Homo sapiens: one gene and its partners. The protein of the gene in region 1 purifies or fractionates together with the protein of each later gene. This does not show direct contact. Each region holds a gene or a part of one and is shown in the gene's direction. Other genes may lie near its edges. The genes, in order: HSF5, SAMHD1 and ARMC9.

The links.
Region 2: the proteins of HSF5 (region 1) and SAMHD1 purify together in Homo sapiens (affinity purification with mass spectrometry; one study listed by BioGRID and IntAct). This does not show direct contact.
Region 3: the proteins of HSF5 (region 1) and ARMC9 purify together in Homo sapiens (co-immunoprecipitation; one large-scale study listed by IntAct). This does not show direct contact.

Annotation. Positions count from the first base shown.
Region 1 is NC_000017.11:58,485,471-58,489,912, reverse strand, and holds the start of HSF5 (heat shock factor protein 5), read left to right. Parts: upstream 1-1,504; 5' UTR 1,505-1,638; coding exon 1,639-2,188; intron 2,189-4,442. UniProt on the Homo sapiens protein: DNA-binding transcription factor that is essential for male fertility, spermatogenesis and meiotic prophase progression in spermatocytes under non-stress conditions.
Region 2 is NC_000020.11:36,896,113-36,899,759, reverse strand, and holds part of SAMHD1 (deoxynucleoside triphosphate triphosphohydrolase SAMHD1), read left to right. Parts: intron 1-1,215; coding exon 1,216-1,320; intron 1,321-1,800; coding exon 1,801-1,938; intron 1,939-3,647.
Region 3 is NC_000002.12:231,275,015-231,278,661, forward strand, and holds part of ARMC9 (lisH domain-containing protein ARMC9), read left to right. Parts: intron 1-1,621; coding exon 1,622-1,761; intron 1,762-3,367; coding exon 3,368-3,444; intron 3,445-3,647. UniProt on the Homo sapiens protein: Involved in ciliogenesis. It is required for appropriate acetylation and polyglutamylation of ciliary microtubules, and regulation of cilium length. Acts as a positive regulator of hedgehog (Hh)signaling.

The DNA of each region.
Region 1 (4,442 bases):
AAATTATTTTAAGCATTTTATCAATCATTAAAATTTACTGCCAGTTGTGAGTGGCTTTTTAATTAACTTGTCTTTCATTGCACTTCACTCTGCCTGTTTTCAAGGGGAGTAAGATTGGTAACATTTGGGGAGACTGTATCTGTCTACTTAGCGTGGCTGTTTTGAGGGACTGTCCCATCAGTGAACAAACTGCATGGCCTTGGAGAGAGACTCTGGGCTCTTGGCTCAGATGTGTTCATCAAATACTCCTTTCAGAGCTGTTGTGGGTGTAAGTGACATGATGTGGCCAAAAATCCAAACTGTGCAGTTGCGTTGTGACAAACATGCAATGTGCTGTAAAAATTCAATACAGTTTAAATAAAATCTCTATATTAGTGCTGCTTTGTTGGGTCGTTTTATTTTCATTTCTAAAAAAACTTAATATTCACTTATTCTTTGACCATGAGAAGAGTAGAACATTGTACCCCTTTCTCCCAGCAATTTCCAATTTATTTATTTTGAGATGGAGTCTCCCTCTGTTCCCCAGGCTGGAGTGCAGTGGTGCGATCTCGGCTCACTGCAACCTCCGCCTTCTGGGTTCAAGCGATTCTCCTGCCTCAGCCTCCTGAACAGTTGGGACTACAGGTATGCTACCACGCTGGCTAATTTTTGTATTTTTAGTAGAGACAGGGTTTGACCATGTTGGCCAGGCTGGTCTCGAACTCCTGGGTTCAAGCAGTCCACCCAGCTCGGCCTCCCGAAGTGTTAGGATTACAGACATGAGCCACTGCGCCCGGCCAATTTCCGTTTTCAAATGAACCTCTCTTTTTGAATCAGCACAGCTCTTGTTACATTCTTATTTATTGATTGGCTAGGGATCGATTCTTATGGATACCGTAGAATTCTGTCCCATCTTTATTTCTCTTTAATGTCTAAAATGCCACCAGCTAGTTGGGCAGGCACACAAGATAGTACTTAGATTCTTGTGATTCCCTCCTCCTAGGGACCTCAGTTTTCATCTAACCTTGAGTAAATTGTCTTGAACAAATACTGACTTAAAAGAGTGTATCTTAAAAGATACAAAGGGCTACTATCTAAAAGGTGAGTTCGTTTACTCAAGATATTATACCTCCAGTAGCATCATTTTTGTTTGAGAGGTAAGCAGTTCCACTGTTAGCAAAGATTACAGACCAGACCCTTTGGTCCCCAGAACGACCAACTCTGCTGCCTAACGCACACTTTCTCTGCATTCCAAGTCTCCACTAGTTGGCTGGGCCGAAACACACGCCTCTTGGTATTCCACGGTGGATAACTGGGCTTCTCTCTTGTCAGGACTTAGAACACCCCGGCAGACAGCCTTCCCGGCCTGAAGTCTGGGAACGCCTGGGGAAGGGGCTCCTGCCCGGGTCCCGCAGGCGTCCGGCGGGCCGAGCTGGGGCACGCGGCCGCCGAGGGGGAGGTGCCCACGCCGCGTGGCGGGAACTCGAGGCCCCATTGGCCGCGCTGGGAGGCGCCGCGGGGCCTCGTGCGCCAACGGTCCCTGGTACGCGGCGGATGGGCGCCGGCAGGAGCGGGCAGGGCGAGGCGAAGGCCGGGGAGGGATCGAGAACGGTGTGGGAGAGCTAGGCTCGGGGGGCGAGGCCCCGGCCCGGCGGGGCGATGGAGGCGCTGCTCTCCACCCCCATCAACCCCAACAACTTCCCCGCCAAGCTGTGGCGCCTGGTGAACAGCCCGCGCTACCGCTCCATCCGCTGGGACGGCCGCGGCGAGGGGCTGCTTATCGATCAGCCGCTCTTCGAGGCCGAGCTGCTCAGCCCGCCCGGGCCGGGGGGCGGTGGCGGGACTGCGGGGGCCGGGGCCGAGCCCGAGCTCTTCAAAACCACCAGCTTCACCAGCTTCATCCGCCAGCTCAACCTCTACGGCTTCCGCAAGGTGGTGCTGGGCGGGCCGGGGGGCGGCAAACCGGCAGGCAATGGGCCGCTCCATCACTTCCACAACCCGCACTTCCGCCGCGACCAGCCACAGCTGCTCGTGCACCTCAAGCGCCTCACCAGCGCCAACAAGGCCAAGCTGGCGGCCGGCCTGGAGGTGCCCTGCCGCCCGCCCAACCGCTTCCAGCGGCTGCTCATCACCTCGGCCTCCGCCGCCACCGCGCCACTGCAGCACCAGCAGCCGCCGCCGCCCGCGGGGCCCCGGCCCGAGCCGCACGGTGAGTCCGGACTGCCCGTGCCCTCGCCCACAGTGGGCACATGGGCGGCGGGGAGCAACCGCCGCTGGAGGGCGCATTTTCGCACGTCCTCACGCTATGGGCGTCGGAAAGGCGCCGGGGACCCATTGGCCGCTGTGCTTCCCGAGACTGGCGGTCCCGCCACCGCCGCCGTTCTCAGCGGCACCAGCACGGTGGCCACCGGCCCTCCCCTGGAGGGTCCGTAAGCATTCGGCCCCTTCTGAGCCCACTGGCAGCAAAAGGGACCTCCGCCTCTTAGGCTCCCTTCTACTCGTCCCCGGTTTGAACCCCAGGAGTTTACCTGGTTGTAAGCCTCCGTTTACCTTCCTGAGACCCACACTGTCCACTGTAAACATGTGGACTCAGTAGTCCTTCGTTGAAACATTGGGTCTGGAAGAAACAAAAGGGGCTCCTTTGCTCCCGTGGGAAGCAGAGTGGAGTCACCCTACGGGTTAAGGCGGGATGGAACAAAATCGTAGTCAAGAGAATTTAGAACATTACGGTTGGGCGTGGTGGCTCACGCCTGTAATCCCAGCACTTTGGGAGGCCGAGGCGGGTGCATCACGAGGTTAGGAGTTTGAGACCGGCCTAACCAACAGGGTGAAACCTCGTCTCTACTAAAAATACAAAAATTAGCCAGGCATGGTGGTGCACGCCTGTAATCCCAGCTACTTAGGAGACTGAGGCAGGAGAATCGCTTGAACCCAGGAGGCAGAGGTTGCAGTAAGCCGAGATAGTGCCACTGCACTCCAGTCTGAGCAACAGAGCGAGACTCGGTCTCAAAAAAAAAAAAAAAAAAAAAAAGAGAGAACTTAGAACATTACAATAGCAGGCAAGGGAAAGTTTTGGAAAAGGTGCCTGCAGTGGAAATTTGTCCTTGAAGAGGGCTGCCACCTTCCACCTATTGGCACATCTAAGAAATCTTAGAAGTGCTACGACAATCATCAGATTTAAGGTTCTGGTTAATGTGTAGAATGGTAGACGTTGTTTATATACCTTAAGAGCAAAAATACAACGATACATCGTGGCTTACAAGATATAGTTCCTATGTAGAATGAATTGGCTACACATTTCTTTCATTGAAGCAAATTAGAGCTTGATGCTTCCTTAAAGGGGTATGATTAGACAAACATAAGGCAAAGATGGTTTTCTTTACAGCTGTCAAGTTTTAGTTAAAAAAGAATTTTAGAAAGCTCACATTTACAGCCTTTGGAGTTTTCACTATTGGCTACAATCTTTCAGTATTGAAAAAACTTTTTGGTATACATCTGTATTTAGTAAAAGTTAAGAAACCCTCTGTGATAGTGGATTATTTATTTTTTATTATTTGTTTATTTTTTTGAGACGGAGTTTCGCTCTTGTCACCCAGGCTGGAGTGCAATGGCGCGATCTCGGCTCACCACAACCTCCGCCTCTCGGGTTCAAGCAATTCTCATTCCTTAGCCTCCTGAGTAGCTGGGAATACAGGCGCGTGCCACCATGCCCGGCTAATTTTTATATTTTTTAGTAGAGACGAGGTTTCACCAGGTTGGCCAGGCTGGTCTCGAACTCCTGACCTCAGGTGATCCGCCAGCCTTGGCCTCCCAAAGTGCTGGGATTACAGGCCTGAGCCACTGCGCCCTGCCTATTTTACTTTTTGAGATTAAGTCTCACTGTGTTGCCCAGGCTGGCGTGCAATGGCAAGATCTCCGCTCACTGCAACCTCTGCCTCCCGGGTTCAAGTGATTCTTCTGCCTCAGCCTCCAGAGTAGCTAGGATTTTACAGGTGCCTGCCACCACACCTCGCTAATTTTTGTATTGTTAGTAGAGATGGGGTTTCACCATGTTGGCCAGGCTGGTTTTGAACTCCTGACCTCAGGTGATCCGCCCATCTTGGCCTCCCAATGTGCTGGGATTACAGGTGTGAGCCACTTCACATGGCCAAATTATTTTATAGACTTGATTTTTTTTTTTTTTTTTTGAGATAGGGTTTCACTCTGTCCCCCAGGCTGGAGTGCAGTGGCAAGATCTTGGCTCACTGCAACCTCCACCTCCCGGGCTCAAGGGATCCTCCCACCTCAGCCTCCCGAGTAGCTGGGACTACAGGCGTGGCCACCACACCCAGCTAATTTTTTGTATTTTTGGTGGATACAGGGTTTCACTCTGTTGCCCAGGCTGGTCTGGAACTCCTGGGCTCAAGTGATCTGCCCACCTTGGCCTCTGGAAGTGCTGGGATTACAGGCGTGAGCCACCACTG
Region 2 (3,647 bases), on another chromosome or scaffold:
TCTCTCCAGAATCACCGGTGACTTCAGAGTTGCTAAATCCAGGAGACAGTTTCAGTCCTCTCTGCCTCTGAGCTGTTTCCTCTGCCTGCAATTCTTTTTCTTCCCACCTAAGCCTGTTTGTTTCTTGCTCACTTAGTAAAGTCACTTTCCCAGGAAAATGTTTCCGGTCATTCTCCGGGCACCCTAGGCTACATCAGGTAACCTGTTAGAACATTTCAAAGCACCCTTTGCTTTTCAACTGTGGTTGAATACTTTTATAATTATTTGTTGAATTTCAATCTAGGGCTGCCTGGTTTGTGGGGGCTAGGATTTTCTTTACTTATTTATTTTTGGAGGCAGAGTCTTGCTCTGTTGCCTAGGCTGGAGTGCAGTGGCGCAATCTCAACTCACTGCAACCTCCGCCTGCCAGGTTCAACCAATTCTTGTGCCTCAGCCTCCCGAGTAGCTTGAACCACAGGTGCACAACACCACGTCTGGCTAATTTTTTTTTTTTTTTTTTTTTAGTATTTTTGGTAGAGACAGGGTTTCACCATGTTGACCAGGGTGGTCTCGAACTCCTGGTCTCAAGTGAGCCACTGTGTCCGGCCTGGGATTTTATTTTAAAGTGTCCTTGTTGTACCTCTAGTGTCTATCTGTGTCTGTCACATAGCAGGGATTGAGTTTACACCACACTTAGATCAAACACACAAGTGCATTTCCCATTCTTCCCAGATTTCAATACCAAATCCCTAAGAGTGGTCACGAACCAGTTATTTTTATTCCACCATGAGTCACATCAACATTCTTATTTCCAAATCCCCAGAAGGCTCTGTTCCATTTCTTTCTTTCTTTTTTTTTTTTTTTTTTTTTGAGTCAGAGTCTCACTCTGTCGCCAGGCTGGAGTGCAGTGGTGCGATCTCGGCTCACTGCAACCTCCATCTCCCAGGTTCAAACAATTCTCCTGCCTCAGTCTCCCGAGTAACTGGGGTTACAGGCGCATGCCACCACGCCCAGCTAATTTTTGTACTTTTAGTAGAGGTGGGGTTTCACTATGTTGGCCAGGCTGGTCTCGAACTCCTGACCTCGTGATTCACCCACCTTGGCCTCCCAAAGTGCTGGGATTATAGGCATGAGCTACTGCGCCCGGCCTCTGTTCCATTTCTTGTTATGCTCCTACAGCCCTGAGTTCAGTTCTCCTGCTTGCTATATGATTACTTGTGAATTGCTTTTATTTAGGTTATCAACATGGATTATGGAATGCAAGAAAAGAATCCAATTGATCATGTTAGCTTCTATTGTAAGACTGCCCCCAACAGAGCAATCAGGATTACTAAAAACCAGGTAACTACTTAGGCAAAACAAATATACTATAGTGGCATGTAGCAAATCTTTATAGTAAATTAGCATTTTATATGCAAATTAGGTTTTAAGGCATATCTTTACAATTAAAGTGGGCCTGGCACAGTAGCTCATACCTGTAATCCCAGTGTTTTGGGAGGCTGAAGCAGGACGATCACTTGAGACGAAGAGCTTAAGATCAGCCTGGCCAACAAAGCGAGACCCCATCTCTACAAAAAATAAAAAACTTAGGCATGGTAGCTCATGCCTGTAGTTCCAACTACTTAGGAGGCTGAGGTGGGAGGATCACTTGTGCCTGGGAGGTCAAGGCTTCAGTGAGCTGTGATTGTGCCACTGCACTCCAGCCTGGGTGACAGGGAGATCTTGTCTCAAAAAAAAAGGAATAGTTAGGAGCCTAGGGACCAGCTGATATCTCCAATGTGTGACTTCAAGGTGATAGTGAAATCTCTTCATTTTAAAAAGGTTTCACAACTTCTGCCAGAGAAATTTGCAGAGCAGCTGATTCGAGTATATTGTAAGAAGGTGGACAGAAAGAGTTTGTATGCCGCAAGACAATATTTTGTTCAGTGGTGTGCAGACAGAAATTTCACCAAGCCGCAGGTAGGTGGCCTGTTACTCACAAACTTTGCACAATTTTTTATTTTTAAGTAAAAACCAAAAGTAAGTCTATCTGCTGAAAAGTTCCCATTTAAGTTATAGTCATTTGGTTATGGTTTTGAAAATAAGGTCTTTCACTTTCTTTCCTTTTAAAATGTCTGAATCTGTGTCAGCCAGTGATTTCTTCCTACAGGAGTTGGGAATGGATACTGTTTAGCATTATTGTCCTAATAATAAAAATGTGAACATGTAAATAATGCTTTCTAATGTTGTTCACCAGTGGCCCTGGAAGGTTATTCATAGTGTCTCCATCTTTCAGAGGTTACCAAAGCTGAGTAGTTAACTTGTTTAACATAAAATTGATAATAGACTTCATGTTTCTAAACCTCGTTACTTCAGTATATTAGTTAGCTATTTAAATTATCTAGAATGTGAGTAGAGGGAAGAGGAGCCAAGCCACAGTTGCCAACCCTGTAGAGAAGGTTGTTAAAATTGTCTCTTACTGACCTACACATGGTAGGTGTCTGCACAGAGAATGTGGCCAGTTGGCATTTATTGAATGAATGAATGAATGAATATGATTGGCATGCAGGGCAACAGTGCTTTACTGCCTAGTCTAGAACTCTCCCTCACACCTCCCTGTGTGTCAGGTGCTAAAGGGAACAAAGGATAGGGTGAGACATGAAAGCGTAGCTCAGGATGTCGGTGCTTTATCAAGTGCCACAAGGCATGATCCAGGTAAGATCTCTGAGGATTCAGAGAGTTGGGAGATCTCTGGGAGAAGCCTGGTGAAGGGGCAGGATCTGCTAGATCTAGAAGGCAGGGTTGTGTTTGGATGAGTAGCAGGGAGAATGCAGGGTATATTTGGCAGTGGGAGGAGCACAAAGGCATGAAGCTGGAATGAGCTGAGACTGTTTAGGGGACCATGAGGAGACCTGTCAGGGTAGAAAATTCTTTTTTTTTTTAATTAATTAATTCATTCATTTTTTTGAGATGGAGTCTTGCTTTGTCACCCAGGTTAGAGTGCAGTGGCACGATCTTGGCTCACTGCAACCTCTGCCTCCCAGGTTCAAGCGATTCCCCTGCCTCAGCCTCCTGAGTAGCTGGGATTACAGGCATGTGCCACAATGCCTGGCTAAATTTTTGTATTTTAGTAGAGATGGGGTTTCATTATGTTGGCCAGGATGGTCTCTATCTCCTGACCTCGTGATCCGCCCACCTCGGCCCCCCAAAGTGCTGGGATTACAGGTGTGAGCCACCATGCCCAGCCAGAAAGTTCTTACTGTTAAGTGTGGAGAGGTTAAATGGGAAGAGTGGACTAGATTATTGAGAACCTTGGATAATTGGCTAAGAGATTTTTTTCTCTGTACAGTGGGGAGGGAATCATTGAGCATATTCAAGAATTACCATGCACTGTATGATCTACCTGAATGTGTGTCATCTCCAACTAGAGTGACACCCGTGGGAATAAGAGTAGAATTGTCCCTTGGTGTCTGTGGGGAACTAGTTCCAGGACCCCCACAGACCCCACAGATAGAAAAATCCATGGATAGGCTGGGCGCGGTGGCTCATGCCTGTAATCCCAGCACTTTTGGGAGGCCGAGGTGGGCGGATCACGAGGTCAGGAGATCAAGACTATCCTGGCTAATACTGTGAAACCCCGTCTCTACTAAAAATACAAAAAATTAGCCGGCGACTGCACTCCAGCCTGG
Region 3 (3,647 bases), on another chromosome or scaffold:
ATACAAGATATGGTGAAAAAAATACTTCCTCCTGGTAATGCAAATGTTTACTGCCTGTTTATCTTTTCCTCTAAGTGTTAATTTAAGCTTTTTTGTTCTGTAAATGTGCTTAACCTTTTTGCAGTTTTCCAGAGTCTCTGCAATAAATGAAGAAGGTAGCTAGTTACCAAGAGAGCGCAGTCTTCACTGTATTCTAATAAGCCACCCTGATTGGGTCAGTGTAGTGTTTAAGAACAGGATGAACGGATAACTGGTTCTGCTGTTCTGTCCTGAGTGGTGGTTTCACCATAACCTGCGCATCCGGAGATGTGCAGAGCTGGCTTCTCTGTGGCATGTCAGTTTTCTACTAATCCAGATGGCATCTCATAATGATACCACACTTAGTCTCAGCAATTCTTAAAGCTAACCTGATGACATTCACCATCACACATTTTGATGGGGTATTGGATTTTGTAAGATTCTACACCTGGACTTTGGGTGGAAAATCATTCCTTATAATTTGCATTAACCAGGTCATTAAACTACCCTTACTCTATAGAAATGTGAATCAAAGTGATGTTAAGCTAGGCTTTTGCTCCTCCTTGTTTTCTTTATTTTTATACAGCTCAGAGTGCCTAGAGCTGGATTATAGAGCGTTTAGGTAAAAATCTATTTGTCAGCTGGGCACGGTGGCTCACGCCTGTAATCCCAGCACTTTGGAAGGTTGAGGCAGGCAGATCAGCTGAGGTTGGGAGTTCGAGACCAGCCTGGCCAACATGAAGAAACCCTAGCTCTACTAAAAATACAAAATTAGCTGGGTGTGGTGGCGCATGCCTGTAATCCCAGCTACTTGGGAGGCTGAGGCAAGAGAATCACTTGAACCCAGGAGGCGGAGGTTGCGGTGAGCCGAGATCGTGCCATTGCACTCCAGCCTGGGCAATAAGAGCAAAACTCCGTCTCAGGAAAAAAAAACAAAAAACCTATTTGTCAAAGAAGTATTTCTATGGTCCTGTTTCCTGGGTTAAGTAAACCAAAAGCTACAAATAAATATTTATTAGATATTTGAAGCAATGCTCTGCTAATTTTAAATATTGAAAAGGAAACTTTCAAAGTAGGAGGCCTCCTTACCACCTTATCTTTATTTAAACCCTTAATAAATATCCCTGAAATGTAAAGAATTTTTGTTATTTCAATTGTATGGGTTTAACAAAAATATTCCTCAGAGTCTATGTCTTCTGTAAGTTTGTCTTTTCTGATATGCATTCACATTACTGTTTCTTCTTTTTTTTTTTTTTGAGACAGAGTCTTGCTCCATCGCCCAGGCTGGAGTGCAGTGGTACGATCTCGGCTCACTGCAACCTCTGCCTCCCGGGTTCAAGCAATTCTCGTGCCTCAGCCTCCCAAGTAGCTGGGATTACAGGCGCCGTCACCACGCCTGGCTAATTTTTGTATTTTTAGTAGAGACGGGGTTTCACCATGTTGGCCAGGCTTGTCTCCAACTCCTGACCTCAGGTGATCCGTCCGCCTTGGCCTCCCAAAGTGCTGGGATTACAGGCATGAGCCACTGCTTCCAGCCTACTGTTTCCTCTTATATGAAAAGTTTCTTGGCAGTTTGTATTTACCGTAGGCTCTTTCTTCCCAGGCGCCCGCTGCAGACAGCGATGATTCAAGACGGCCTCATCTTCTGGCTGGTTGATGTTCTGAAGGACCCTGACTGCCTGTCTGACTACACGCTGGAGTACTCGGTGGCTTTGCTCATGAACCTCTGCCTCCGCAGCACAGGTCTCAGCCCCGACCCTCATTCTAGTGCAAGAAGGGGAAGAGATCTTGACTCTTGAAGCTGGGTTTCTAGTGAGCCTGATATGGTTTGCTTTTAGTCTCATAGAAAACTAAAAACAGAAAAAGGAGTAGAAAGCATTTCCAACTAGGTATCAAGCTGTTGAATCCCTGAAGGCAAAATCCATTCTTGCCCTGGAAAAAATGTCTTGTATATATGTAGTGCCTGCATTAAGAGGAGACTAAGTTCATTTACCTTTTTCTTTATTGCATTATTCAGAGGTAGGAAATTAAGAATATGATCCCCTTTTCTGAAGACAAAGAAGTGTGTTCCCAAGATACTATAGGATTAAGCTGGCCGCAGTAGCAGTGACACTAAACCACACTTCCTGCCCTGAATCACACTCTTTTCCCTGCCCCAGCCCTGGAGGTGGAGGTTCTCCTGTGGGCACAAGTCATTTATATACTTGATCAGTCATTTATATACTTGATCGCTGAAGGTAGTGATTTGAGCTTTTCCAGGTACAGGTACTATCTCATTTAAATTGTTACCTGGGATGAAAGAAGCTTCTTTAGAAGAGGTGCCACCTCCAGGCTGTGGCTTTCCCCAGCCTGAGCATCCAGTGTTAGGAGAGAAAGGCTCCCTGGGTAAACAGCTGGCTCAGGAGGACTTGTTGGAGCATCTTCCCCTCTATATACTTTGTAGACTGAACCATGTAACTGTGTGTTGTTGACTGAGTAAATGACTGTTATTTCAGTCATTTAAAAAAATAGCATGCAAAAAGTCCTAGCCTTTTTTTTTTTTTTTTGAGATGAAGTCACGCTCCATTGCCCAGGCTAGAGGCAGTGGCATGATCTTGGCTCAGTGGTGCAACCTCTGCCTCCCGGGTTCAAGCGATTCTCCTGCCTCAGCCTCCCGAGTAGCTGGGATTACAGGTGCCCACCACCACACCTGGCGAATTTTTGTATTTTTAGTAGGGAGGGGGTTTTACCATGTTGGCAAGGCTGATCTTGAACTCCTAACTTCAAGTGATCCACCCACTTCGCCCTCCCAAAGTGCTGGGATTACAGGCGTAAAGCACCGCACCCAGCCAAAAGTCCTAACTTCTAATATGTTTATCAGATTAGAATTAGCTTTTCTTCATCATCATCACCATATTTGCAGTGATTTTTATGATGATGTTTATAACTACTAAAATGCCTATATGGTCTTCCTGATGGTGGTGTCCGTGCGTGGGAGGGAGAACGTTGCTCTATAATGTATTGTGCTTTCACTGTAATGACTCGCTCTGTGCTCTGACCGGAGTAATAGCCACCACTTGGGATGGTTTACTGAGCACCGAGGTTCTATGCTACACTGAGTCCTTTACATACATTAGTCTACTTAATTTTGCATCACCTTTTGAGGTAGGTATGAATAGTAATCCCTGTAGTAAAGAAGAGGAAACTGAGGCCCAGATTGGTTACATGACTCACCCGAGGTCATACAGCTCACCCGAGGTCATACAGCTCATGAGCAGAGGAGCCAAGATTTGTCTCCAAGTCTACCTGACCTAAAATTGTGCTTCTGGGTTTAGACATGTCATGTTTAGCTTTGATTTGTTTCCCATAGGGAAGAACATGTGTGCCAAGGTGGCAGGCCTCGTGCTCAAAGTCCTTTCGGATCTTCTTGGCCATGAAAACCATGAGGTACTCATTCAGCACTGCTGGCCCTGGGCTCGGGGAGGCTACACTGGGGACCCAATGCCTGTGACCCCACAGGCACACAGCTGGCCCAGGATGGTTGCTGTATTTGAAAACTGTACATGTTCTCTGTCCTTCTGGGATTTTCATAAGCAACTGGAAATCTTTTATAATTTTTAGAATTTTGGAAGTCAGAAGCAGGATGTTCT